Homo sapiens: one gene and its partners. The protein of the gene in region 2 interacts with the protein of the main gene of each other region in a biochemical or structural test. Each region holds a gene or a part of one and is shown on either strand. Other genes may lie near its edges.

Region 1 (7,021 bases), on a different chromosome or scaffold from region 2:
ACACACAGAAACCATGGCAACGGGAGGGAGGGGCAGAGACCCCGCCAGACAAAGGCCCTCTGAGCCCCGCCCCTGGCGTCTCTTCCTTCCTCCAGGTGCTGCTCCCCGGCCCCCCTCATTCCCTCCGAGAAGGCTCAGCACGGGTCCGGCACTGGGAGGCAGGGACTCGAGGTCTTGAAAGGGACCGGCAACACTCCCACCCATGTGTGTGGCATGGCCCTATAACGGATGCCTGAACAGACCAACAGACTCCACACCTCCCTCCCGCCAGTCTCTGGCACTCGGCTGCCTCCAGCGGCTTCCAGGGGTTCACAGTGCCCAAAGGGGAGCACTACCAAGCAGGGCCTGGCTTCCTACTGCCAAGTCAGAGATCTCTGTGTTAGGGAAACTGAGGCCTCAGGTCCTGCCCACACATGGGAAAGTCTTTCTGGGGCAAGGTGTGTCTCCCTCAGTGGGGCCCTTTCCACTGCACAGAGGGAAACTCAGGCACCGGGTGAGGAAGGCTGGCCTGATATAAAGGAGGCCCCAGACCTGTTCATCGCTGGCGCCTCAGGCCCCAGGTACCGCCTGTGCAGGAGCCAGGAGGTGCTGGACAAGACGCGGATCACGCGGAGCTGGGCCATTTGGCACCGTCTCCCTGGAGGCCTCTTCATTTCAGGCATCCCTCCGCTGTTCCCAAGGCACCTGAATGACCTCTTTTCCCTTCTGATTCATGGCGGTGGACTCTGGGAAAGATAACGGGAGCCTAGGCCTCATCTATGAAATGTACCCCTTGAGGGAGGGTGCCAAACCCAAGGCCTGCCCTGAGTAGCCTCTTCAAAGTCACCCCAAACTGCCTCAGGGCCCAACCCAAGCCAGCAGCTGTCCTTGTGTCCACAGGCCAGGAGACCATGCTAAGAATCACGGCACTGGCGGGGCGGGGTGGCTCACGCCTGTATTCCCAGCACTTTGGGAGGCTGAGGTGGGCGGATCACCTGAGGTCAGGAGTTCGAGACCAGCCTGACCAACATGGAGAAACCCTGTCTCTACTAAAAATACAAAATTAGCCGGGCATGGTGGCACATGCCTGTAATCCCAGCTACTCTGGAGGCTGAGGCAGGAGAATCACTTAAACCTGGGAGGCGGAGGTTGTGGTGAGCCGAGATTGCATCACTGCACTCTAGCCTGGGCAACAAGAGCGAAACTCAGTCTCAGAAAAAAAAAAAAAAAATCACAGCATCACAGATTCTAGTGCTGGATACAGAGAGGGAAGAGGACAGTCTGAGGTCTCATGGTGAGGAACTGGACCCTCTGGGACCCACAGTCTTGGGTGGCCATGAGGATGCACGGGTCTCTGCTCTGTGCATGGCTTCATGGCCCAGAGAGGCTTGGACGCTTCTGCTCTGGCTCTCCTAAGCCTTCCTCAGCCCCCTCAGTCCCTTACGGCCTGGCCTGGCAACACAGCAGAACCCCTAGGAACCCCTACAAGAGAGGGCAAGGCCCCACTAGGCCACAGCACTGAGATTCGGAGGCCAAGGAGCAAGAGGAACCAGCCTCAACAACTATCATGCAGTCATCAGCCAACACCATGGCCACATTCTACCACCACACAGTACCGTACGTGCACCCAGCACTGAGCCTGTGCTCACAGTGCAGCCCTAAGGAACATGCTTTCATTTCACTCCTCTGGACAATTCCCAGTCTCAGAGGCCCTCACCATGGACTTCAATAGCTTCTGAGCCTTCCCCAGGCTTGGTCTCAGTCTAAGACTGGGGCTTATGGGAGAACAAGCATAATATTAGGGAAAGAATGAAGTCCTAAATTGCCAGCTATAACTTGAGCATCACTGTGAGAGGATACGGACTAGGAGAAAAAGTGGGAAGTCAAAAGGTGCAGCTGCAGCCGGGCGCAGTGGCTCACACCTGTAATCCCAGCACTCTGGGAGGCCGAGGCAGGCGAATCACTTGAGGTCAGGAGTTCGAGACCAGCCTGACCAACATGGTGAAACCCCGTCTCTATTAAAAATACAAAAATTAGTTGGGCGTGGTGGCACGTACCTGTAGTCACAGCTACTCAGGAGGCTGAGGCAGGAGAATCGCTTGAACCCAGGAGGCGGAGGTTGCAGTGAGCCGAGATCATGCCACTGCACTCCAGCCTGGGTGACAGAGTGAGACTCCATCTCAAAAAAAAAAAAAAAAAAAAAGGAGTGGAGGGGGTCCCCCATGACCACATGGCTGTAGAAAGCTTCATACACAGAGTCTTGGGTCCCACCTTCCAGGACAGACAGCTCCCTTTCCGCCTCCTAAAAGAAGAATTGAGGCCCGAAAGCCAGGGCCCATAGGCACAGGCAGAACACACACGCACCCACACCGTCTGCCTGCTGTCCTGCCTGATCCGTTACTTCCAGCCAGCACAGACTCCCAAAGGGCCATGGCAGTTGGAGGCAGGCGCTTAATCACTACATGGGTCATGTCCTGACATCTCTGTTCCCTGTTTAAGTGCATAAAGTCCCTGAGCTTCAGTTTGTCCATCAGTGAAATGGGTGTAATATCAGTCCCAGCCTCACAGGATTAAATATGACAAGATAATGAAGAATTCAGCTCCACACAACAGTCAAGGCTCAATCAGAGACAGCTGTGGTTATCACCTGAGGGGAAACAGGCCCAGTGAATGCAGCCCTAGACCCAGTGAGTGGGTGCTGGTAGGGGAGAATCCTTAGGCTGAGGCCAGGGATCCTTTGTCCGCCCCCCAGCAGGGGAAACCCAGAGTGAGCTCATCTCGGGGCTGTTGCTGCATTTCCAGGCATTCATCTCAGCCTGTGGCTGGCCTTCCGGCTTTGGAGAGCAATGGCCGCTCGGGAATCTAAGAGCAGCCCTCTGCCTTCCTGCTAGCCCTCCCGCCAGCGTCCTTCTCCCAGCCACAACTTCCTGTGGCCAAAGAAGGGGCCTGGAATCCTTCTCGAAGGCACCACCTTCTCTGGGATCTTGGGCCCGATGGTTGCTGGGGTGGGACAAGGTACAGAGCTACCTGGACTGGCTCCAACTCAGTGACCGCCACTAGAATGGCCCACAGGAGTGCAAAGATAAGCCTGGGCAGGTGTTCACCTCCTAGACCCTTCCAGTTGGCAAAGCCCTGGGGGGCCCTTGGGCTCTCACCCCCACCCTAGCACCAGGCAGCCCTCTGGCCTCTTCCTCTTTTGGGCTCCTCCTCCCCCAGCTGCTTCCTCCTTTTCCTCTGGTGTGGACACCACTTCCCCGAGAGGCCCAGCCCTGCCCTGCCATGTCGTGCAGACTTCATTACCTCCTCCTCCCGCCGGGGGCACACACAGTAGGTGCTGCCATCACCTCCTTTGCATATCCTGAGGCTGTCAGCAGCCTTGGAGCCCCCAGATTCCTCCAAGCCATAAGGATATCTTCTCCCCAACAAGGCTGAGATGACCCCACCTTTAGGCCTTTGCTCAGACTGGTGTGGTGCTGCCTTTCAAGCCTTGTAAATGTGCACAGAGGCCGGCACAGAAGAACCAGCCCAGCAAATGTTTGGTTATTCCAGAAAGATTCTTCCTCCCCAGCCACCAAGAGCAGCCACAGCCCCAAGAAGTAACATCAGGGTGAGGGTGGGGTTGGGGTTTAGTAAGAACGAGAGCTTCAAGCTAGAAGGGCTGGGTGGGGCTGGGCAGACGGGGTTCCACCCTGCACCTGTAGCTGAGGGAAGGGCTGCCTGAGAGCATCAGGTACCAGGGACACCATCAAAGGGCCCAATCCTTTGCCTTCCCCAAAGCACCTTGCAGAGCACTCTTAGGCAGGGTGTATCAGCAGTGGCCTGGCCAGAACCTGCTGACCCCTTCCCCTCCTCGCTCAACTCCTAGGCTGGGATTCCTGGCCTGAGATGCTGGGAAGATGAGACTACTCCCTGGCCTGTACCTTGCCCCCATCTGCCCGGTCCTGCCTCCCCCCACAGCACAACGGGATGTAGGGGAGGCAGCACTCAGGCTCTGGGGTGACAGTCTCCTCCTCTGCTGTGGGTGGGGTGGGGGGAGTCCCTGGTTCCTCAGTGGCTAAGAGCTTGGGTGGACAAAGCTTCCTCCATCCTGTTCCCGCCAAGTGAATGGGTGGCTTTTAGAGACAGACTGAGAGAGTCACAGCCAGGGACCAAGAACTAAGATCAACGGCAGAGTATACAGGACCTGTGTGTCTGCCTGTGGCCCAAGTAGCCCCAAGTGCACCTACTGCCCCACCCCCTGCAGTGCTGGAGGCCTAGGGACCTTGCTGGGACCTGACCACACCCCACCCTCAGCACTACCTGCTGCCACTTGCCAGGCAAACTGATGTTCAAGGGCCTGGGACATCAGTGATGGCACTCAGTGACCCTACCTCTCAGGCCACCCAGGGCCAACCGCTGACAAGCTGCCCAGGGCCAAAGGGGTCCCGGACCATCCCCAGGCCCCATCCAGCAGCCTAGGCTCTGACACATAGTGGGTGGTGTGATGCTGCCTCAGGGCTTCTGACATGGAAGCCTGTGTCCCGCAACTGGTTTGACTTCCACCTCCTGCCACAGCAGCGCGGCTCATTCTCTCTGTCCTCACACCTGCTCTGCCCTCTGTCTGGGGTTCCTCTCCCCAACCCGCCTGGGATGCCCCCAGCTGAGCTCCAGCTGCCCTGATTCACCTAGTCTCTCAGCTCAGAGGTATCCCTTAAAGGACCTAGTCTCACTCCTACCCTAGAGGTATGACCTCATGTTGGCTGCACTGACACTGGCGTGAGAGGCAGGGGCTGAGCCTAGCAGAACTGGGCAGGATGCAGGCAGAGGGGGTCAGCTATAGCTTGGACCCCTGTTCACTCCTTAGTGTGGGAGCTCTATCCCTGCCTGCTCCTGCAGACAAAGCCCCGACAAGCCTGGGGGAGGGGTGGGAAGAAGAGACTCAGAGGCCCAAGCCGCCCCGCCCCCCATTCAAGTGCTAATGAGCTCCAGCAGTGAAGGAGAGGGCTGGGGTAGAGTGTAGGGGCTGGAGGCCAGCCTGGGTGGGTACTGGCCCACCTGGCACCCAGGGCCCTACCACATCTCCAAACCTAGACCCCCAGAGGTTGGGCCTAAGGTCCCCAGGGCAGTCTGTCACTCCTGCTGGCACCAACTATCTGCACGCCTTGGGCTCCCCACTTGCTGTGAACAGCTGCCTGAGGGCAGGGGAGGGGGTTCCCTAGGGCTCCAAACCCAGGCCAGGCAGCCTCTAGGATGGGAGACTCCTTCCCACCAAACTCTCAGCAGTGGGTCCCTCATCCATTTTCTTTTTTTTTCTTTTTTTTTTTTTTTTTTGAGACAGAGTCTTGCTCTGTCCCCCAGGCTGGAGTGCAGTGGCACCATCTCGGTCCACTGTAACCTTCACTTCCCAGGTTCAAGCGATTCTCGTGCCTCAGCCTCCCGAATAGCTGGGATTACAGGCACATACCACCATACCTGGCTAATTTTTTTGTATTTTTAGTAGAGACGGGGTTTCACCATGTTGGCCAGGCTGGTCTTGAACTCCTGACCTCAGGTGATCTGCCTGCCTCAACCTCCCAAAGTGCTGGGATTATAGGTGTGAGCCACCGCGCCTGGCCTCCCTCACCCATTTTTCATACCTCCAAGCTTTGGTAGACTGTCCCCATAACCTGTGGCTGCAGGGAGGCACTCTGCCCCCAGGTTATGAGTGGAGAGCAGGACTCCTGCCAGGGCTTCACCTGATGCTGAGTCTCTCAGCCAGTGCCATAGGTGGAACTGGGATTCGAACTCAGGTCTGGATGACCCCATGGGCTGGTCCAGGGAGGGTGGCCCTTTCCCCACCAGGCCAGGAAACACCCACCCAAGCTCTTGGGAATACAGGCCAAGTCTTCCTGCTGCAGTGTTCTTGTCGAGTTGGTCCCTCTGACCCCCAGTGCCTGGCCCTGGCAAATGGTATTCATCCTTCACAGCTGCCCAGCAGACCCCCTCCTCCAGGAAGCCCCCCTTCACAGGCACCATTAGAGTCTAACTCACTACCCAGCCAGCCAGAATCCCAAGCTAACCCTTCCTATCTGTCTCTAGCTAGACCAGGCTCCAGTGGCTGCCCCAGGATTATACTTACTCCTCTCCCAGGAGCTCTGCCCTGTTCATGGACATGTTCAATCACTTCATTCTGTCCATATACCCTCATTAGGCATCTATAGTATGCCAGCCCTTTGCAAGAGACACAGACAGGACAGAGGCCACAAAACCCCCTTTCTTTTCTTTTGGTAAACTTCATTGAGCCCTTGCTATGTGCAGTCTCTGCACTGGCCAGTACCAGGACTCTCACAGCATTGCTCTGGTCTGAGCCCCAGGGCTGCGGAGCAGCCCCTGCTGGACCAGCCAGCTCAAGCTCGACTGTGGCTACTGCAGTGTCAGAGACAGCAGCCCTCTAGCAGTGCACCAACAGCCTGAGTTGGAAGGAAGAATACAAAGCCACTCTGCTCAGCAGGAGTTCCGCACAGGGTGGGATAAGAACTCTCTCAGGTGCCAGCATAGCCTGTGGCGGGGCTGGGAAGAAACAGCCTGAAGAACTTTTCTCAGTGTCCCCTCAATGCTGGTCACCAATCCTGTGGTGGGCCTGTGGGCCCTTGCCACCTGCCCACAGTATGCAAACTGCCGCTCAGTTTACTCCACCATCTACCCAAAATCAGGTTCAGAGGATACTTCCTTCATTCAACAAACAGATGAGAAGCACCCAGTAGATGCCAGGCTCCATGCTGGGCACAGAAATGAAGAGGACTTAGCCCTGCCCTGCAGTCTCCAGGCATCTGAGGGGGGAAGCAACAGCGCTGGGAGCCAGATGTTTCACCAGCCTTGGTCGAGGGAGGATGTCCAGGAAGGATCCTGGGAGGTGATCCCAGAGTAAAGTTTTAAAGAACAATCAAGTAGGGAACAACACACACAAAGTTCCAGGGGCAAGAGAGAACTGCTCTGTTTACATTCTGAAGCCTTTATGGAGCCAATGGTGGACACTGTCTCCTTTTTTTGTGAAGCTGTCCACACAGGCCCATCCCAAATCAGA
Region 2 (7,622 bases):
GTGACTGTAACAGTGTCTTGAATATAATTGGGGCTCAATACACCTTTACAGAATTATGTGGAATCAATCAGCGGTCAGAAAACAAAAATAAGGTACAAAAGTAAGGCATTACTCTTATCTTTCCACCAGGTGGCGCTGTGTTCTTTAGCAAATGCAGCTGCCATGCGTTTAGCGGCCAGGAGAGAAGGTAGACAAAAAAATCACAGACCACAGACCAGCAGGCCTCAGGCAGGTCAGCCTGGGGACTGAGCCAGGTTACATAAGGTCCCTGTGCTGACCTTGTCTCCCCAGTTGCTAAGTGTTTTGAGCCTCTAAAAACGGATGGGTTTATAAAGGTGGGTATGGACAGAAGCCGAAAAACCTGCCAACACATCCTGCCCCATCATGAGTCTTAGGGTTAAGCACCCAGGAGTGGCACTGGGCCTGGCTTTCCTAGTCTCTGGTCACAGAAGCCCAGTCACCCCTGTGCCAAGTAAGGCCCTTCTACCTCTACACCTAGCCCTTCCTCCCCTCTAGCCCTGATTCTCAGAGGGGAAGGAGCAGGCAGGGTCGTGAGGATTCACTGGGCATATGGGGGCTCTAACCTCTTTAGGGGCCTCACTGCAAATGAACTCCTCAAAGATCTGGTGTGCCCTGGAGGCCAGCTTGGTAGCTGATCGGATCTTCTTGAACTCCTCACAGGCCAGCCAGAACTCCAGGTTCTCCTCACTGAACTCTGTCTTCAGGAAAGCGTGGAAGGCAGCCACTCCATCTGGGGTTGCGGGAAAGAAGAGGAAATAGGTCAGCTGGAGGGACAGCAGGGAATACAAGAAGAAAGGAAAGCAATTGCAATTAATGGCTCTATTTTTAGAACATAATTTTCTTGAACAATGACCTGCCTTTATATGTTGAATAGAGGCTGGCACACTAGGGGATCATTATTATTATTATTACTACTACTATTATTCTGCCCAGGCTCTCAGCAGTCCTGGGGCTGGCTCCAAAGCACATGAGTACACATGTGCCACCCAGAGACAGACACAAAAGGCTCCTACTCACTTTTACTGCTCAGCAGCAGGTCGAACGACTCTCTCCACCCCAGCACATCTTCTGAGAAGTTTCTACTAAAAGACAAAAAGAAAAAAAAAGAGTAAGAAAAAAAATCAACAAACCAAAGCATAGTACAAATTCTAGCCAGAACTCTGATGGAAAACTGCATAAAATTCACAGAAAGGCTTGCTTGGTGATTGCTGAAGCTGACACCTCAAACTCTTAGTTGGACTTAGGGTAAGCAGTAGTGCTTTCTAGAGCACAATTCAGCAACCAGAAATCAAAGCCAGGGACTCTTTAGTCCTCAGTCAATATCTCTAAGCCTGTCTCGTCTCTGTCCAAAAATTATTTCAATTCCCCTGACTCTCAAAGATTTGTTTTGTACACCTTCCCAAGGAAATAAGGTCCTCATAAATAGAGATTACATCTACACATAACTCCAGAGTTTGGTACAGTTGATAGCCAATATGAAAGAGTTTCTAGGCAAGGTGCATACTAGAAAACTTCAAGTGGTCTTGGATTCTGTCCTAGCCCTGGATGCACGTGCAATGAATCCCGAGGTGGGAGAGTCTGGGAACTAGGCATTCATGCCCTGTGTGCCCTCATCCGTGGATGGACTTGGAGCCCTGGAGCCACCTACCCACTCACCCATGAGCCAAGTAGTCATAACAGACCAGCAACAAGTCCCACTAAAATCTCTAGGGAGGTGTTGCCAAGGTCCACTTAGCGTGTCCTGGCTTCTCCCTGTATTTCCCTCCTCATGACTCCCTTCCCACTCCCTTCCCTCTCGGAGCCCTGAGCTGGTCAGCAACACTTACTTCTCTTTGCTGTGTTTACTGCCCCACTCGAACTTGCCAGTACTCCCAGTATCGCAGCCCAGCTCTGATTTGTGAAGAAAGATCCCCAGACGTGTCTTGAACTCTTTGGCTCTGAAAAACAAATCAGGAACATGAAAGCATTCTCTCATTTGCTCAGCCAGTGTGGAGAGGTTTATGGGTCCCAGAAGAGCTCTGGGTGGTGCCACCCAAACTTTAGCCTCAAGAGTTCCTGGAAACTCTTGGCTGTCCCCAGGCCAAGAGTGCTTCTCTTATCAGCATCATCAACCCCAAAGCAACAAAAGCAATGTTTGAGCTATGCTGTGGTAGGTCTTACACTTTCTGGGTAATACACACGCTGCATATATGGGCTTTTCCCTAAAGTCACACTGATCTCTCTTCGTGCCTGTTGATTCAGAAAAGAACTCAGCATTCTTTTCAGAAGTATTTCTGAACTGTGTGGGAAACTGATTCCTGCCTTCATCTTTACTTTTTCCTTCCCAGCCAGTAAGGATTGGAAGCTGTTGAGTAGCTCTCTGGAATATGGACACACCCTCAACAGTGGGAGCCCCCACCCCCACACACCCCACCAAAAAAAAAAAAATCTCCCTGTCTTCCAGGGGCAGAGGAGGCAATGCCCCTAGCTCTGGTCTGAGGAATGAAAAACAAATGCTTAAGAAATGGGCAGGCTCAGTGCTGCCTGGAAATGTCAACGTGGCCTTCCCGCAGCCGGGTCTTCAGCAGGTCACCTGAGCACGACTGCAGTTTGTCAGAGGATGGGGATGGCAGCAAGCCGCGGGCCCTTGCTTCCCTTCCCCTTGCTTTCTCCCTGCTCCTGGAATCTGAGCACGTGGCATCAAGTGCGCTTCTACCTCTCTACTCAAGCCTCTAGCGCCCCATCCCCGCGCCCACCCAGGTCCCCAGGCCTGCCGCTCCACTCCCTAAGAGTTGGTGGGACTTCCCCCAAGCAGTTGGACAACCTCCCCTTACCTCTCCAGGCAGGTGGTGGGGAAGGCGGCCAGGGTGCGGCACATGGCTGCGGGCGCAGGGCAGCACGTAGTAGGCAGGATGGTGGCAGGCTCCAGGAGGCTCCGCGTGCGCCAGGAAGCAAAGGCGCGGTAGCAGGTGCTAGTCAACTGCGGTTGGGTTTAGCAGCCTGCAAGCGCCCAGACTGAGCGGCCGCTGCTTTAAATCCCCTCGGAGGAGCGGGGCGGGGCTGGGCACTGCTGACCAATCGGAGGGTGGGGCTGGGCGCTGAGAAGGCGGAGGCGGGGCCCGCAGCCAGACTGGGCCGGGTGCAACTTTCGCGGCAGCTGGAGCACGCGGAGCTGCACCCTCCGCCCAGAGGACGCCGCGTGTGGAAGGAAAAGCGGCAAGAGAATTGGCACGGGGATGAGACGTGCACACCCAGTTTCCTAGGGAAAAGTACCTGCCGACCTCTAGTAACAGCAGGAAAGTCACGCAGCGGTGTCGTGTTGAGAGAGTTTGCACGGGGGTGGTGGGTCTGGGAGGCACACAGGGCTTTCTTTGATCGCAGGCAAGTCTGAGCCTGCTGGGTCCTGAGGACAGGCGCACAGGGTGCAAACCTGGGCAAAACAGCATCTGATTATACTGATAAGTACCCTTTACGAGGCTCTTACCATGATGGACACGGGGCTAAGTAAGCTCTTCATCATCATCTCCATTTTATAGATGAAGAAATCGAGAATCAGAAAGCTAAATAAACTTGTCCAAGATCACAGTTGGAGATGACAGAAAAGTGGAATAGGGATGAGTAGTTTATTGAACACCTACTATGTGCTAGGCACATAAGTAAGACTTGCTCAAAGTCTTAGTTATTAAATAACTTGCTCAAAGATGTGCAGCTAGTAAGTGTTGGCTCCAAAATTCAAATGTGAATTTGCCATTCTTTTTCCATTGCACACACACACACACACACACACACACACACCACACACACACACAAAGGTTAGTACCCGGTCACGGCTATACCTGTGGACGATCCTGGGTTTAAGCAGTTAATACCTTATTGTCTCCATCTCTGACATAAAGGTAATAAATGCCCTTCCTCTCACCTCATCTTCCCATAAAGGCATTGGGATTGCTATTAAGAGGCTGTATGTGAGGTTAAAAGTACAGGGTCTAGAGTTAGATTTTCAGGTTTCAAGTCATGGCTCTGCCAGGTGACCTGCTGAAGACCCAGCTGCAGGAAGGCCACGTTCACTGTTAACTGGCTACTGATGGGAGACGAGGCAAACTGCTTAACCTTTCTATGCCTCCATTTCCTTGTCTCTACGAAGAGAACAACTTATTTCATAAGGTGGTTGTGAGAACTAAATAAATTAATTCTTAGTTTGAGTTCCTAGGAACTAGACTCGGGTAGACACTTGCATGCAGGAGGTTTACTGGGGAGAGTTATCAGAATTAAGAGGGAGTAAAGAAAGCAGGTCTGGGCAGAGGGAGGAGTTGAAGGCCATGCCATTTCAACAGAGACCCCAGCTGGTTCCAAGGAATGCCCGGAAGCTCAGCTGGCCCTTTGGAACTGTCCACTGAAGCAAGAGGACAAGGCCCTGGTAACCCCATAAAGACCATTCATTGCATACAGCTGCCCAAGAAGACAGCCTAATCTTAAGGCAGTGCCCTTTGTCAAGAGCAATTCCTGGAGAGAGACTAACACCCTGGGAAATGATGATCACAGTCCCCAAGACGGGATCTGGGTGGCACCGCACAGCATCCGTGACAACATATAAGGTGCTTATATGACAGTGCTCAACATGTAGTCAGCAGTCAATAAATGTTATAATAGCTTTCAGTTTTACTTAATAGGGATACTGGGATTGCTAGCAATAAGGAAAATTAGTGAGTCTTTTGTGCCTCTTGGAATACAGTATAGGCAGTGTATACTGAGGCACTCTTAGTTAAGTACACCTGAGGCACTCTTAGTTAAGTGTACTGGAACAGGAAATAGCTGGAAATTGGATCCTATCTCCCAATTCCTGAGCTAGTACTTTCTCCTGCTCTGATAAAGAAAGCAAAATAAACGGTGCCAGGAGCAGTGGCTCACGCCTGTAATCCCAGAACTTTGGGAGGCTGAGGCGGGCAGATCACCTGAGGTCAGGAGTTCGAGACCAGCCTGGCCAACATGGCGAAACCCAGTCGCTACTAAAAATACAAAAACATACCCAGGCATGGTGGTGGGTGCCTGTAATCCCAGCTACTTGGGAGGCTGAGGCAGGAGAATCTCTTGAACCCAGGAGGTAGAGGTTGCAGTAAGCCGAGATCGCGCCATTGCAAAAAAAACAAAGGCATTGATGCACAGTGCACAGACCAGCAAATCTGAGAGCACAAAGCTCCCTACTCTAGATGAACGGCCCTCTCCAAGTTCAACCTGCCTCTTTGTTGCCATGGTTACCTCTTCAGTTTCCAGGCAGAAACTTTTTGAAGTTCACAATTTATCCCAAATTATCTTCCCAGCAGGTCGGTTCATATCTGCAGTTTCGGTAATGCAGGATGACTCGACAGTTGCTGTAAATCCAGCAAGTTGAGCTCACTTATGAATTGCACTGGCTTGGACAAAACCTGACCTCATTTTTGCCCAGCACTCCCAGAGCAGATGTGATCTCTTTAATGGATGGCAGCATGGGGGCACGGCTCTGCACCCTGGGTCATCTGGGGTCAGCAGTCTGGGCAAAGCCGTAGTCAAGATTAAATGTCCCACAGCATCCCAGCCATATTGCCTTTCATCTCCTTCAGCTCCCAGCCCCCAGCACTACCCTTTCCATGGAGGCAGAAGTCTAGATGGGGATCTTTGTCTACTGATAATGGTAAGCAGAAATGAGAACTCTTCCTCCATTTTTCTGATTTAGCTCAGATGATCCTCACAGTGGTTTAGGTCCTCCAAATTCAATCATCAATCTACAAATACATATTTCTTATGAATTTACTATATTCCCAAGTTGGTGGGAAAACAATAGCTTTTAAGGCTCTTCCCTGAATTCAAGGACCTTATAATCTAGCTAAGGAAATAGAACTGCATGGTGGGGAGCAGGGAAAGTGAAAGGAAACTATTGTTTGTCACAGAAACAGATGTCAAGGGAAGAGGCTGATTAGAGACGGTTGACAGTATTGAAAAAGAAGTGATGGAGCCATGGTAGCCAGTGAAAAGCAGAAGAAGTAGGAGGAGGCATGAAAGTGAAAGAAACAGGAAAAGCTCTTATCATTTGCAGGTACAGCAAAGGTGCAGAAAGACTAAGGAATTTATTAAATGCTGCAGAAGCACTTAGGGTTGTGGGACACAATTGGATGCCACTTTTAGATTTAAGAGCGTATCCTGAAGCAGCTGAATGAGGAGGCAGTGATCATCTCCAGCAGAAGTGAAATAGGCAATCACTGGGGACATTTCCCCACTGGTTCATGACAAAAACTTTGGGCACCCTCTCCTCCTGGGTAGGAGAAGTTGACCAAATTCAGCCTGGTTGTAGGAAATGACTTTTACTATGATTAATGATTACTGTTTAGGGTATTGCATGCAGCTTGCTTTGCTGCTATATTAGTCCTCTCTGGTTTCTTCTTTTCCCTCCCTCCCCACTTCTCCCAAACCTAGACTTGGAGGATGACGTCTAGACTCCTCTGTAAGGCATCTAAGGCTCTAACCACTTGGTCTCATATCCTTTATACACCCTAAATTCCAGCCAAACTCAGCAATTGGCACATTATCCTGGGCATCATGCTGCCTTATACCCACAAACCCTTGAGCATAAAATTCTCTTGGCCTGAAGGTCCTTCCCCTTCCTGTACTACTCAGTTAAAAAAATATTTTTCAATAAACTGATTTTACTTATATATTGAGATACAATTACATATAATAAAATGCACAAATCTTAAGAGTACAATTCAATGAGTTTTGACAAATGTATACACCCATGTAACCAATATGTAATCAAGCTATGGCTTCCATCACTCCTCATGCCTGCTCCAGCAAATTTCTCCCCTAAACAGAGGTGACCACTAGCCTAAGTCCTAGAACCATACATTGGTATTGACTTTTCTTGACTTTTCTACCTATTTTTGAGACCTAGCTCAACTGCCTTCTATTCTATCATACCATCCCTAATTCCTCCTCCCTCCCCGCATCTGCAAGCAGAGTTGGCCAGGCCTCCTTTGAGCCATCCCTGTTGCCCTGTACTGATAGAATCAATGTACAGTCTGTTTCCTCTGTGCACTCCTGGAGGGCAGGGACTATTGCCTTGGTCATCTTTTTTTATCTTCAGCCCCTATCACCATGCTCAGTTCTGCATATGTTCCATAAATGTTGGCTGGGTAGATGGCTTCTGTTTCAACACAAATAATAAAAGCTAACATTTATCGAACACTTACTATGTGCCAGGCTCTGTTCTGTGTGCTTTGACTTGAAGTATCTCTTTCAATGCTCACAATTACACTCATAAGATCAGTAATATATTTTCCCCATTTTACATTTGAGTAAACTCTGTTTACGTTGAGTAAACAGAGATTGGTTAAGTAACTTGCCTATGGCCACAAAGCTATTAGGTGGTCGAGTTGGGTTTTGATTTCAGATAGTCCAACTCCAGGACCTGGGTTCCTAAGCAAACACTACGTCGGCTTGCCATGTGGTATTTTCTAGAACTCAGAATTGGCTTGCTATGAGAAGAATGAAGCACATCCTTGGGGAATCACGGCACAATGTTTCAGGTCATCCTTCTGTCTTCTGCAGTTTTGTTTCCTTGTATCCTCTCTTTCTTGCTCACTCCATTCCTC
Region 3 (7,884 bases), on a different chromosome or scaffold from region 2:
AGCTGGGGCCTATGGAACTTCTGACCAATTGGCTTCAAGTCCTCTTAGGTTTATTTTAGTTTTTATTTTTTTAATTCCTCTTAGGTTTTTATGGAAGCTTCATGATGTCAGCATTCCTTCCCCCAGGGTATAGGGTGGGGTCCCTCTCTGAGGAGGGTCTTAAGACTCACAATTTGAAAGACAGGGAAAGATTCCAGTCCTGCCTTGGGGTAGGTGAAAGGAGGGCAGGAGAGATTCTGTTTCCCAAGGCCTGCTCCTAAGGCCTAGGATGCCTAACAAAATACTGTAGCAAGGGCTGAGAGTTATGAGCCAGGAACCATGGATGAAAACCTATATATGTGTGTGTATGTGCATATATATATATATATATATATATACATACACAATACTTAATAGATTACAATATAGTGTAAACATAACTTTTATATGCACTGGGAAACCAAAAAATTTGTGACTCCCTTTATTACTATATTTGCTTTATTGACTATTTACTCAGGTCTGGAACTGAACTTGCAATATCTCCTATATATACTAATATGTGAATTAGAACCAGGGATTCATCTTTTTATCTCAATTACTGGAATAACATAGAAGTACTGGTAAAGCTGGCCAGGCAGTGGCTCATGCCTGTGATCCCAGCACTTTGCCTGTAATCCCAGCACTCTGTAATCCACTGAGGCAGGTGGATCACTTGAGGTCAGGAGTTTGAGACCAGCCTTGCCAACATGGCAAAACACCATCTCTACTAAAAACAAAAAACAAAAATTAGCTGGGAGTGGAGGAGTACATCTGTAATCTTAGCTACTTGGGAGCCTGAGGCACAAGAATCGCTTCAACCTGGGAGGTGGAAGTTGCAGTGAGTTGAGATCGCCCCACTGCACTCAAACCTGGGTGACAGAGAGAGACCCTGTCTCAAAAATAAATAAATAAATAAAATTATTGGTAAAGTCGAATGTATACATACATATATACATTTCTGACAGTGCTAGAATTTCTGGTAGATTATAAATGAGATATAGAAGGAAAAACTTGATAAATGTGAGTTGAGTGTATTCCAAAAACAGATACACTACTATAAACAGTGGCAAAGGAATGAAATTACACCCACAGTACATTCTCCACATGGGCCAGAGTGCAGCTTTAAAAGTATAAATCTTGGCCGGGCACGGTGGCTCATGCCTGTAATCGCAGCTACTCGGGAGGTTGAGGCAGTAGAATCACTTGAACCTGGGATACAGAGGTTGCAGTGAGCTGGGGTTGCGCCGATGCACTGTAGCCTGGGAGACAGTGAGACTTCGTTTAAAAAAAAAGAAAAAAAAAAAGAAAAAAAAAGGAAATGAGGGAGGCCAGGCATGATGGCTCATGCCTGTAATCCTAGTACCTTGGGAGGCCGAGGCGGGTGGATCACTTTGAGGCCAGGAGTTTGAGACCAGTCTGGCCAACATAGCAGAACCCCATCTCTACTAAAAATACAAAAATTAGCTGGGCGTGGTGGCACACGCCTGTAATCCCAGCTACTCCGGAGGCTGAGGCACGAGAATCGCTTGAACACGGGAGGCAGGGGTTGCAGTGCGTGGAGATTGCACCACTGCCCTCCAGCCTGGGTAAAAGAGTGAGACTCTGTAAAGTAAAAAAAAAAAAAAGAAGAAGAAGGAAGGAAGAAGAGAGAGAAAAATAAAAAAGAAGAGAATCAGATATATTTACACAGATGCAAAAGTGCCTAATCCACTGAAAAGCCCTCTCTGTAAGCTGTCATTATTATGAAGCTAGGAGAATGCCAAGAGCTGGGAGGTATCAAAAGTTTCAGGAGTGCCTTGTGAAAAGGAGGGGGCAGAAACTGATGTGAGTCCAGCTGCCAGGGTTGTGCGAGTGCGAATGTGTGTGTCTGGGGAAAAGGTGATAAGGAAATGACTCAAGTGATTTACAAGACAAGCAAACGTATGTCTTGTGAAGGGTGATCTATTTAGACTAACCTCAATTACTGACCAAGAACCTATTTGACCTGACCCATTTTCTACTTCATTCACACACCAGTCTTTGTTCTCTTCCTTGAAGTCAGGCCACACACTGCCTCTTCTGTTACCTGAACACCCCTATATTATTCCCATCTCAGGACCTTCTGCACCTGCCTGGCTCCTTATAATTCCGGTTTCTGTTCAAATGTTGCTTCTTCGGAGACGATTTCTCTTGACTATTCCATCTAAATAAAATAGCGTAACTCTTTCCTTCGAGTTCCCCCGATTTCTTCATTGCACCTTTCACTCTCTTAAAGTTATCTCATTTATGTGTTTACTTGTTTAAGGCTTGCCTCCCCCATTCCGATGTACACTCTGTAAACCAGGGACACTTTTGACCTTGTTCCTGGCTGTATGTAACCTTAGCGTCAGGCGCACAGAAACTATATACATATCTGCTGTCTTCTGTAAATATAAAACCTCAAGTCCGGAGATCCCTAGACACTGGGAGCGATCAAGGGCCGGGAGTGTGCCTTGTGGACGAATGAGGAAGTGGGAAGGCCGTCCTGAGAAGATCGGGGAACCCTGGGAAGGAAAAGTAGAAGTCCGAGCTCTCGGGAGGACCGAGGGGCGCGAACGTGGGGGTCTCACCTGCCGAATGGCCGCCAGCGTGTTCTCGGGCGCGTCGTGGCTGCCGCCACGGTGGGCGATGGCAGAAATGCGGTCCCGGGGCTTGAGCACCTGCAGGGCCCTGCAAGAGGGCACCGGCTCAAAGCTGAAGACGCGCAGTAGAACGAAGAGGCTGCCGGTGAGGAGGCAGGCATTGACCGGGCTCCGCGTCACCAGCAGCAGCACTAGCAGCAGGAAGGAGAAAGGGCCCAGGAGGCCGCCCTGGTCCTCCCACAGCCACATGCCGGCGCCCGCACCGGCACGGACGGGAGTCCCGGACCCGCCGGGCTCCTGGGGCAGTAGAACGAGAAGCGAGGGGGAGGGTCCAAGGCACCGGCAGCAGCAGGAACCCTCTGAGGGGACCAGCGCCGCACAATGGCGGCAGCAGACACATCCAGAGAGGGAGTCGGCCGCCCAGCCAATCAGGGATCGGGATTCGCAGCGCCAGTGGGCGGAGCCGCTCCATGGCAACGGGGGAGGGCCCAGGCCCCAGGCCCCAGGCTCACGTTCCAAATCTAAGGTGGGTTAGGGTTTTCCGAGGTCTGAACTTCAACCTGGGCGTTCAGACTCCTAGGCGAGAAAAGGAGGGATAAGAACCATCCTAAAGCTGTAGGACTGGAAGGGATTTTAGTGACTCCTTTATCTGCCCTTGAGGAAACTGAATTCCAGGGAACCTGGAGAGGCAGGATGCTTAGACTATCAATTCAATTCAATTCAATTCAGTTCAGTTCAGTTCAATTCAAGATGTGCCAAATACCGGTCCAGGTGCTCCGGACACAGTTGAACAGGACCTACAGGGTTTTTGCTCTTATGGGATTCACATTCTTGTGGGAGGAAATAAAAGTTAGCAAGTACACCTAACGTTTACAGAGCACTTACCATGTCCCAGGTACTTGACGAGCAAACACTTTATATGCTTATCTCATTCTCAATACAGCCTAACAGTTACTATCAGGAGACTGATTTCAATCGACTTTATTTTCCAGATTCTGGGGGACTGGAAGAGCCTAGCAAAGAAGGCACAATCGGATTATAAAACTGGAAGGGGTTTTAAGGATTCCCTTATTTCATAGATGCGGAAACTGAGGATAGGTGAATTAAGCAGTTAATGGCAGGGTGGGGACTGACATAAAGGCCTCCCCAGTGATTTGTGACATTTTCACTCCTCCTCCCCCTAATCTTACTTCTGCTAAGGGCTTTTGTACCAGGCACTGTACAGGAGTTACCTCAACTGTGCCTCACAACCACCCTTGTGATAGGCACTTTTAAAACCCCCATTTTACATATGCAAAAACAGGCACTGGAAGGAGGGTAAGAGAGATAGACCATGAAGCCGAGTTAGGGAGTGAAAAGGGGCCCCTGGACATATTTTGGAGGGCTGGTAACATTTTTATGTAGAGAACTTTGCAAAAATATTCAGGGATTTTTCTGTTACCTTTTTTTCCTTTAGTGCATTTTCCCACTGATTTGCAAAAGGGGATAGATGTCTTAAGCCTTCCAGTTGGCATCTAGGATTCAGCCTTTTTTTTTTTTTCTTTCAGACAGTCTCACTCTATCGCCCAGGTTGGAATGCAGTGGTGCAATCATGGCTCACTGCAACGTCGACCTCCTGGGCTCAAGCGATCTTCCGACCTCAGCCTCCCGAGTAGCTGGGATCACAGGCTCGCGCCACCCCACCCGGCTAACGTTTAAAATTTTTGTAGAGATGCCGTCTCCCTTTGTTGCCCAGGCTGATCTCGAACTCCTGGGCTCAAGCGATCCTTCCGCCTCGGCTTCCAAAATGTTGGAATTATAGGCGTAAGCCATCACGCCCGGTGGGTTCAGCAAGTTTTTACCTACAAGAAAATATTTTGGTGAATGTTACATGTTTTCTAACGGCTGCATAGAAAGGGGTTATCTTTATACAGATAAGAAAAAAATGGCAACTTCAAGGAACACTTCAGGGGGCTTCAGACCCTGAGGGGTGTTCCTATTCTACTAAATAAGTAAATTTATTAATAAATTCTAGTCTCTAGCTTGCAAGGAAGACTACGTTTCCCGGCGTGCAGCGTGCTGGCCGTAAGCATTACGTCCTCCATCGCGGGCGCGCAATGCACCTCGGGGATGGTAGTGTTCTGGTGGCCCAACGGTTTTAACAGCCCGGGAATCAACCACCGGAAGTGCCGGCCCTGAGAGGTGGAGTCGGGGTGGCAGCGGCGGCGGTTGCCAGGAGCCCGCGTTGCAGCCTGAGATCCGTAATATGGCGGGGAGGAGGAGGAGAAGGCGGCGGCGGACCGAGCTGCGCTCTGTCAGTACCATTTGAGCCATTCGCTTCCTGACAAGGCCCGTGGCGAGGGGAGAGGAGCTGAAGGGGCCGTGGGGGATCAGGTGTGTGCATGAGGAGGGGGCTTGAGCCTTGACGGGTCCGGGCTGAGAGGTGGTCTGGCGAGGCGAAATTGGCGCCCTGAGAAGCTGAGGGCGGGCTCTGTGCTGGGCTCCCGGGCCTCGAGCCCCCTGGAAAGGCGCCGGCTGTTGGGAGGCGGGACCCCGGGGGCAGCCAGCACCGGGCGCTGAGGTGATGCTCCGATGCTGGCCCCGCCTGGAGGGCCCTCGGTTTGGAGTCTTAAATCGGAGGAGCTGGAGGAGGTGGGCATGGGGCGCTGGGGAGAGGGCAGGGGGCCGTCCCTGGTGAATAAAACTCGGGCCAGAGCCGGAGAACCCCATCGTGGTGATCAAATTGTTTGGGCCGTTTTTCTTCTCCCTCCCACGGTGCTGGAGAGGGAGGCTTCCCCGGGGTGTGCATTGGCCATTTATGAGCCCCTGTTTCCACAACCAAGGCCCTAGGAGCGCTGCTTACTTCGCCTTTGCCACTCTGGGGCATAAACTTGAGGATAATAAAGTAATCGATTGCCCCTGGAGCTGCTAGATGGTTCCCACCCTTTGATTCTATTCTGGTTACGATCCAAGCTCCCTACCCCCAGTTTAGGCAAATGGCAGCCATCTCGAGATTGATTTGACGGGGAGAGGTCTAGGGACAGGGAAATGAGGAAGCCGTTGTCCCCTTTTCTATATTTTTCAGTTTCATTTGAAACCTACGGGGAACCAAGCACTGTCGCTGCCCTCCAGGAATTCATACTCTACTGCTAAAAATCGTCATCATCATTATCCTCTTAATAAGAAAAGCAGTCCCCATTATTTGTTGCTTTCTGCGTGTTCTGCACTACGTTAATTGCCCTACATGCATTAGCTCATTGAATTCTTACAACATTCCTTTGAGACGGATACCGTGATCATCCCTCTTTTACAGAGGACGAAACAGGTGTGGGGATGGTAACTGGCTTGCCAAGAACTTGCAGCTAGTACGCATCTGAATAAGAAATCTTCCCCTTTACCGCTTTTACAAGAAGTTTGCGTCTTTGGCGGAACTGATGGGCAAAGAAACACTAGGTTCTGCAAAAAAAAAGCAGGATCTGTTCTGTGTTACTTTTACCACTCTTTTCAGTGACATGTCTGGCAGAGCACGGGTAAGGAGCAGATAGGACCATGAGTCTACGGGGTTTGCAAAGAGGCTCATTTGCACAAGGGTCAGTGGTTCTCTGTGGTATAAATGGAGAAGACGGCATGTCTGAACCTGCTGTAGCTGACAAATTATTACTGGAAGTGGACCAGTGATGCCTGATGGCAAGATATAGAGCAGTAGATTTGTGGCTGGGGTAGCCTTGTAGTCAGGGCTCCCTTAAAATAAAACCTTGCTGACAGTGGTAATTGTAGTGTGAAAGGCATAGTGTCCTCTTGCTTAATCATGGGATACAGACTGCTCACTTCTTAAATGGTTACCTTTGCAGTTTAAGAGGTACCAGTTTCTCTGGGACTAGAGCCATGGTGAAATTTCCATTCTCTAAATTCCACTCTTCCTTGCTAGCTTCGGTGTATAGTCCGCCTTCTTTTTTTCTTCTGGTTTACATTATTGTTTGAGCTTATTATTATTCTTATTCATTTATTCAATACTTTTATCAAGTGCCTGCTGTGTGCTGATACTGTTCTGTGTAATGGGGATTCAGTGAACAAGACTGAAAAGGTACCTGTACTTATGGCGCTTACATTTTGGTGGAGGAAGACAGACAAAAATCAAGGAAATAAACACGATAATTTCAGATAGTGGTAAGTGCTATGAAAATTGGGAAACAGCAGGGTAATGTGATAGTGATAGAGGCAGAGTTCATTTAGATGGGGTCATCAGGGATGCCTTCTCTGAGGAGGGGATATCCAAGCCGAGACTGAAGAATAAGAAGGATCCAGTCATGCTCTAAGGATCATCTAGTAATTTGTATAATCTCCATATTAGCACTCATATTTGAATGAGTAATGCGTTGTCATATGCTGTGTTGTGCTGTAATAATAATATAGTACTATACATCTGCAAGATATAGGACATATATGTACTATTTAAGGGATGTGAATAACTTTCTGAAACAATGAGGCATAGCTCTATGATGTTGAAAGAAAAATAAAACTATGGCCATAAAAGTATTATATTTCCTTAATAATTTCCCTCACTTCTAAAATTGAATTTCATGCTTTGCTTGAGTATCCATAGAAGATATATTACTTTATTTGTATAATCTATTTACATTCTGTGTATTGCTGAATGCATGGCATGATTAAAAAAATAAAATATTTGAGCAGAAATGGGGTTAAGAAATAATGTGAGTTGAAACCTAGACCTAAAAAAAGGCTATGCCTTAAGGTGTTTTATTGTTTTTACTTTTGCTTTTTTAAAATAAATAAAAGCTTGTAAAATAGTCTCACTCACACTGTAGAGAACCATTTGTTTGTCATTAGATTCCTACTTTGCATAGATTGAACACAAATAATTACAATTGATTGAATAGTAGGAAGAAGTTTTGTTATTGATTAAACTATTTAGAAAAAATAGCATTATATCTTATTTTTTTATAACCTGATTATAATTTTGACTATTTTTTTTTTCCCATTTCTCATTGCACTATAATTTGTCCCTGATACTTTGGTGTACTGAATTTTTAAGTACTTTGAGGCCTACCGAGGACATATCCTATTTCATCTTTGCATATCCCACATCATGAATTGAATTTCCCTGCCCTCTCTTTTTTTGTTAAGAAGCTAATTATTTTAAAATGAAGACATAAAGGAACATGATTGTATTCTATTTTCTGTTTCCATAGTTCATACCCTTGCTGGTTATGATTCTGATAATGTCTTTTTATTTTCCCTTGCTTATTTAAAGGAAACAGTGCCACAC
Region 4 (7,021 bases), on a different chromosome or scaffold from region 2:
GACAGAGCCCTGACCATGCAATTTTATACAATTGGGGAAGCCTCAGATGGGCAGTCCCAGGCTGGGACGGCAACTCCACGAAATCACCAGGGTCCCACCTCTTCCGTCTCCATCCTGCTGCCGCTGGTGTTTGCTTTCTATGTGAAGACTCCAGCCTTCACTTGTTTCTAGGGAGAGAGAAAGAGGCAAGGGAAAAGGGGAGCTGACAGCAAAGCCCTGCACAACCGATCTGCGGACCAAAACTCCCTCTGCCCTCTGCCCGGGGCTAGAGAGTTTGGAAGCACACTCATTGAGCTGGGCAAACTGCCACCCCAAATAATATTAGGGCTCTGTCACCAAAGAAGAGGAGGAGCTAGGATGAGGTGAGCACCTGGCACCTGCCCAGAACCTCGCTCCCTTCCTGCCACCCACAGCAAGTGATAAAGAGCCCTGTCACTGGCCAAGCAGGGCAGGATGCACCTCTACAGGTTTTTCCCTCTGTGCTCCTGTTCTTTCTGACTTAATAAATGAGCCCATCCTAACATCTGCTACTGTTACAAAAATCATATATACAACACGAATGTGAGTAAGAAAAGCTAAACAGAATTTTTTTTTCTAACAAATATTCTCTCGTAGGTTCCAGAATCTCAGCTTTTACCTGGACAGAGGTTTCAAACTAAAGGTATGTTTTCATAGCAACATAGTTAAAATTTTTTTTCTTTACTATTAGAGCTTCTATAAAGTGATTGTCCTAAATGTTTTTATTTTTTTTTATTGTGGGACATATATAACATAAAAATTTACCCTCTTAACTATTTTTAAGTATACATTTCAGCAGCATTAGGTACATTCACATTGTTGTACAACCAATACCGCCCTCCATCTCCAGAATGCATCTTCTCAAACTCCATACCCATTAAACAATAAGTCCCCATTGCCTCCTCCCCCAGCCGCTGGCAACCTCCGCTCTTTCTGTCTTTATGAATTTCACTACTCTAGGTACCTCCTAGAAGTGGAATCATACAGTAATTGTCCTTTTGTGTTTGGATTATTTCACTTAGCCTGATGTCCTCAAGGTTCATCCATGCTGTAGAAAGTGTTAGAATTTATTTCCTTCTAATAGTGAATAATATTTCCTTGTAAGTATATGCCCTGGCCGGGTGCAGTGGCTCACACCTGTAATCCCAGCACTTTGGGAGGCCAAGTTAGGTAGATCACCTGTGGTCAGGAGTTCGAGACCAGCCTGGTCAACATGGTGAAACCCCGTCTCTACTAAAAACACAAAAAATTAGCCAGGCGTGGTGGTGGGCGCCTGTAATCCCAGCTACTGGGGAGGCTGAGGCAGGAGAATAGCTTGAACCCAGGAGGTGGAGGTTGCAGTGAGCCGAGATTGCACTATTGCACTCCAGTCTGGGCGACAAGAGCGAGACTCCGTCTCAAAAGAGAAAAACCAAAATGCTACATGATGTTTATCCATTCCTCCATCAATAGATGTTTGCATTATTTCCACATCTTGGCTATTTTGAATAATCCTGCTGTGAACATGGGTGTATAATTTCTTAAATATAGAGTTGTATTTATAGTTTTAGTTTTAAGTGATTTGCAAGAACAAATACTGGACACAGTGTATACAGCAAGGTACTCTCTGTGGGCCGTGCAGACCCTGAGCCCACTAGGCAGGAAGCACATGTCCTTCTTCCAGTTGCCCCCTCTTAGTGCTTCCTCTCATCCTTTGTGCCCCATGAGGTTTGTTAAAACGCTTCTGCTGATGGATTCTTACAGGTGTTCTCTTGTGTTCATCTTTAGATCCAGAGGAACAAGGAGACATTGTGGTAGCCTTGTACCCCTATGATGGCATCCACCCGGACGACTTGTCTTTCAAGAAAGGAGAGAAGATGAAAGTCCTGGAGGAGTAAGTGCTCTCAAGCACGCCACGGCTGCTCGTTTCCTCAGGCCACTGAGTCCTGCAGGCTGTCCCCTTGTCTTGCTTCTGGTGCTACAGCCATAGCCCGGCCCCTTTCTTGTAATGGGTATGAGGCCTCCTTGCTACCCACAGGGAGTGGGCAGTGGAAGGAATAGAGCCAAAGGGATTTTCCTTTTAAGTCGGTCTGTGAGCACACTTCAGGGGGTTTCCCTTTGAAGACAGACAGTGGTTTTTCTTTAAAACAATTTTTTTTTTTGAGATGGGATCTCTCTCTGTCATCCAGGCTAGAATGCAGTGGCATGATCATAGCTCACTGCAGCCTTGAACTCCTAGGCTAAAGCAATCCTCTCACCTCAGCCTCCTGAGAAGCTAGGACTACAGGCATGTGCCACCAGGCCTGGCTAATTTTTAAAATTTTTGTAGAGATGGGATCTTGTTATGTTGCCCAGGCTGGTCTTGAACTCCTGCTGTCAAGCAATTCTCCTGCCTTGGCCTCCCAAAGTGCTGGGATTACAGGTGTGAGCCACCACACCCAGCCTGGTTTCTTTCTTTATCCACTCTTGCCACCTTAAGAAATTTGGGTCTGTGTGGCCCATGCATGATACTTGAAATGTCACTTTTCTTTTGTTATATTACTCATGTTTAGACTGGGTTCATGGGCCCAGCCTAGCTTGAGTTCTAAGGGTACTGAGCTACAGCAGCTGTGTTGGGAAATTCTCAACTCAGCAGCTGCCATGCTTTTGTGAGGACGCCTGAGTGTCGTCATCTCCTCAACCCCCTCTTGCTGACTCAGACATGTGGCAGTGTCAGACCATAGGCATGCAGGACAGTGCTCAGAATAAGAAACTCCAGTTGCTTTAATTCTAGCTTGCTTTTCTTACTAATCTTGCATTAAATGTCACTGTGACCTGCCAAATAGGGTTTGAGGGGGAGACTCCCTTATTAAGGACAAGGTGTTCCGTGGTTGAGAGCAATGTTGCATATGGGTTGAACAGGGACTTAAGCCTGATCCTGGCCCTGCCACTTGATAGCTGTATGACCTTGACAAGACCCTTAAACTTTATACCTTGGTTTCTTTACTTATAAAATGGGAATGACAGTACCTAGATCATGGGGTTGATGTGAGCATGATGCATGTGTTTAAACATGACATAAGCAAAGAGGATGCAGAGCTTAGTATTAGTTCTAGTTGCCTTCATGCCTTACAGACAAGGATCCTGTCTGTGTGTGGAATTTATAGAGGAATGCAGTTAAGGCTCAAAGGGACCCATTCCTTCCCCCATTACCAGCTTACCTGCTTGCTTCTTCCAGTGCTCATCCCTGCCTCCTCCCTGGCTCCATGCCTGCCTTTCTGCTGAGGACTCGAGCATGGTGCTGAAGCTCACTTGCTTGGAATTGTCTTATGGTTTTCTTCTTTTCATAGTGTCCATCTCTATGATAACTAGATGTTTGAACAAAGGAGTTTATAATGCATGAACTGTGGACCAGTATTCCCTTGACTCTCATTTCTATAAGGATTTGAAAGCATTTCTTAGCTATCCTGGGGCAAGTTACAAACCTTTTGTTTCTGTGAGATGGGAGCCATTTGTACCAACTCTTCTTTGTGCACCCCTGATCGCAGTGATGCGTGCTTTAGTTGTAAGGCTGTTTTCCTTTGCTTCTGTCTCTAAACATATTTTAATTCCATCACGGAGAGTGAATTTTCCCACTGGATTCTGGGGTTCCAGAGATGTTCTCCACCCGCCTTCACCATCCTAAACAAACATCTTGAGACAATTGCTATTGTAGCTGTTGAGTCTTGGATATAAACACTTTTTTCCTTTTATTTTTAGTTGACATGGAATAATTATATGCAGTCATGGGATACAGAGCGATATTTTGATACATGTATGCAGTGTGTACGGATCAAGTCAGCGTAATTAGCATATCCATCATCTGGAACATTTATTCTTTCTTTGTGTTGTGAACATTCAAAACCCTCACTCCTGGCTTCTTTTCTTTGTCTCTCTCTCTCTCTTTTTAATAGCTTTATTGAGAATTCACAATACCATACAATCCATCTACTTAAAGTGTACAATTCAGTGATTTTTTTAGTATAGTCACAGAATTGTGCAATCATCACCACAATCCATTTTAGAACATTTTAAATACCCCAAAAGGAAACCCTGCACCCCTTAGCTGTCACCTCAACTCTCCCATTCTCTGCAGCCCTAGGAAACCACGAATCTACTTTTTATCTCTGAAGACTGACCTATTCTGGATATTTCACATAAATGGAATCATACAATATGTGGTCCTTTTTGACTGCCTTCTTTTATTTAGCATAATGTTTTCAAAGTTCATCCCTGTTGTAGCATCTCTCAGCACTCCATTCCTTTCACTGCTGAGTAATACTCCACTGGATGGATATTCCAGATTTTGTCCATTCATCAGTTGATAGGCATTTTGGTTGTTTCTACTTTTTGCTTTTACAAATAAGGATGCTTTGAACATTCATGTACAAGTTTTTGTGTGGACATTATGGTTTCATCTTTCTTGGGTATATGTCAAGGAGTATAGTTGCTGGGTCCTGTGGTAAGTCTATGTTTTCTTTATTTTTAATTTTTTAATTGATATGTAATATCTGTACATAAATACATATTTATGGGATATCTGTGATATTTTGATACATGCATGGAGTATGTAATCTTTTAGCTTCTTTTTGATGTGTATTTCTATTCTAGGCATGGAGAATGGTGGAAAGCAAAGTCCCTTTTAACAAAAAAAGAAGGCTTCATCCCCAGCAACTATGTGGCCAAACTCAACACCTTAGAAACAGAAGAGTGAGTCCTCATGTGTTGTCATCTTGGTGGCTTTATTTGCCACATTGGATTTCTTGTTAATATTCTTCACCTTTTTCTTGCCGTGGAACATAATATGCAGGAAATGTTGAAATGTCTTCACAGGTGGTTTTTCAAGGATATAACCAGGAAGGACGCAGAAAGGCAGCTTTTGGCACCAGGAAATAGCGCTGGAGCTTTCCTTATTAGAGAAAGTGAAACATTAAAAGGTAGGAAATTGTTCAAAGCCTCTTTTAAAACACTATTTAGGAAATTATTTTTAGAAACTATTCTAGAGCTACTCAAGGGGAAAAAAGGGCATATAGTATGCTCTGGTAGTAAAAGTTTTATGGTTTGATAACAAATAACAAACCTCAGTGATTAGTTGTGCTACTAAAAGTAATATAGTTGAGTGTGGTGGCTCACACCTGTAATCCTAACACTTTGGGAGGCTGAGGCGAGAGGATCACTTGAGTCCAGCAGTTAGAGACCAGCCTGGGCAACACAGCAAGACCCCATCTCTACAAGAAATACAAAACTTAGCCAGGCCTGGCAGCACATGCCTATAGTCCCAGCTACTCTGGAGGCTGAGGTAGGAAGATCACCTGAACCCAGGGAAGGGAGGCTGCAGTGAGCCGTGATCACGCCACTGCACTCTAACTAGCCTGAGTGACAGAGTGAGGCACTGTCTCAAAAAAAAAAGAGAAAAGAAAAGAAAAGTACTGTAGAAAGCACACATGATTGTGGCCAGTTCTTACCAGGCTTTGTTTGCTGAGCCTTTTGCATTATTATTTGAATAAATCCTGAAGTTTTAAGACAAAGAAAATTAGGCTGGGCGTGGTGGCTCAGGCCTGTAATCCCAATGCTTTGGGAGGCCGAGACTGAGAATCACTTGAACCCAGCAGTTTGATACCAGCCTGGGCAACATAGCAAGAGCCTGTTTCTATAAGAAATTAAAAAATTAGCCAGCTGTGGTGGTGCATGATCGTAGTCTCAGCTACTTGAGAGGTTGGGGTAGAAAGATCGTTTGAGCCCAAGAGGTGGAGGCTGCAGTTAGCTATGATTGTGCCACTCTACTCTAGCCTGGGTGACAGAGCAACAACCTATTTCAAAAAAAAAAAAAAGAAAATCAAAGTAACTTAAAAAAATTTAAATGTAGCTAAATAATAATTTTAAAAAAATTATCATGAAGAAAGAAAATGGTATGTTGGCAAGCTACACAGCAAACAAAATGCCAGCTTCATTTGTCAAGTAGAATTTTTATAGGACTTTTAAAATTATGCATTTTATACAAATTTCATAAATATATGTATTTTGCATATTTGTATCACAAAATGTGTACTGCAGTTGTTGTATAATGCAGATCTTATTTGTGAGATATAAACATTTACTTACACTTTTCCCCCCATAGGAAGCTTCTCTCTGTCTGTCAGAGACTTTGACCCTGTGCATGGTGATGTTATTAAGCACTACAAAATTAGAAGTCTGGATAATGGGGGCTATTACATCTCTCCACGAATCACTTTTCCCTGTATCAGCGACATGATTAAACATTACCAAAGTAAGTAAAAACTGAAGGTTCAACAAGACAAGATATATTTGTTATGATATGTATAAGACGTCAAACGCTATTTTTATATTAAAACTTTTTATGCATCGTATTTCTCTTAGATACAGTTGCAGGTCATATTCTATAAGTGGTTCTAAATTAATCTATAGTTAGGCCAGGCACAGTGGCTCACGCCTGTAATCCCAGCACTTTGGGAGGCCAAGGCAGGTGGATCACTTGAGGTCAGGAGTTCGAGACCAGCCTGGCCAACCTGGTGATACCCCATCTCTACTAGAAAAAAAAAAAATTAGCCAGGCATAGTGGTGCGTGCCTGTAGTCCCAGCTACTCGGGAGGCTGAGGCAGGAGAATCACTTGAACACAGGAGGCGGAGATTGCAGTGAGCTGAGATCGCGCCACTGCACTCCAGCCTGGGTGACAGAGCAAGACTCTGTCTCAAAAAACAAATACTAAAATAAAAGCAATTAATTAATCTACAGTTAAATACACAAAGTAAGATTTGATCCTTGTGAATAATTCTCCCAGTCCTTCCCACCTAGTACATGCTGTTTGACATTCAGTGTTCCACAATTACCAAGAGAAAAATATATATTGTCTTTGCATATATTTTTACAATGCATCTGAATATCTGGAATAGGAATGCAGATTTGCAGATCTGTGTTTGTGTGTGTGTGTGTAAAAGTAATGTATATTCTTGGTAAAGTCAAACGGATATAACACTACCACTGAAA

Evidence for each region.
Region 1: the proteins of RGS16 (region 2) and GNAI2 form a complex in vitro, tested with the Homo sapiens proteins (one study listed by BioGRID).
Region 3: the proteins of RGS16 (region 2) and GDE1 form a complex in vitro, tested with the Homo sapiens proteins (one study listed by BioGRID).
Region 4: of the proteins of RGS16 (region 2) and LYN, one has a biochemical effect on the other in vitro, tested with the Homo sapiens proteins (one study listed by BioGRID).

What each region holds. Positions count from the first base shown.
Region 1 is NC_000003.12:50,239,187-50,246,207, reverse strand, and holds part of GNAI2 (guanine nucleotide-binding protein G(i) subunit alpha-2), read right to left. Parts: intron 1-7,021. UniProt on the Homo sapiens protein: Guanine nucleotide-binding proteins (G proteins) are involved as modulators or transducers in various transmembrane signaling systems.
Region 2 is NC_000001.11:182,601,382-182,609,003, forward strand, and holds the start of RGS16 (regulator of G-protein signaling 16), read right to left. Parts: upstream 3,009-7,622; 5' UTR 2,879-3,008; coding exon 2,835-2,878; intron 1,959-2,834; coding exon 1,848-1,958; intron 1,104-1,847; coding exon 1,039-1,103; intron 752-1,038; coding exon 585-751; intron 1-584. UniProt on the Homo sapiens protein: Regulates G protein-coupled receptor signaling cascades. Inhibits signal transduction by increasing the GTPase activity of G protein alpha subunits, thereby driving them into their inactive GDP-bound form.
Region 3 is NC_000016.10:19,519,098-19,526,981, forward strand, and holds the start of GDE1 (glycerophosphodiester phosphodiesterase 1), read right to left. Parts: upstream 3,002-7,884; 5' UTR 2,868-3,001; coding exon 2,607-2,867; intron 1-2,606. UniProt on the Homo sapiens protein: Hydrolyzes the phosphodiester bond of glycerophosphodiesters such as glycerophosphoinositol (GroPIns) and glycerophosphoethanolamine (GroPEth), to yield a glycerol phosphate and an alcohol.
Region 4 is NC_000008.11:55,945,833-55,952,853, forward strand, and holds part of LYN (tyrosine-protein kinase Lyn), read left to right. Parts: intron 1-615; coding exon 616-661; intron 662-1,785; coding exon 1,786-1,891; intron 1,892-4,626; coding exon 4,627-4,725; intron 4,726-4,848; coding exon 4,849-4,952; intron 4,953-6,133; coding exon 6,134-6,283; intron 6,284-7,021. UniProt on the Homo sapiens protein: Non-receptor tyrosine-protein kinase that transmits signals from cell surface receptors and plays an important role in the regulation of innate and adaptive immune responses, hematopoiesis, responses to growth factors and cytokines, integrin signaling, but also responses to DNA damage and genotoxic agents.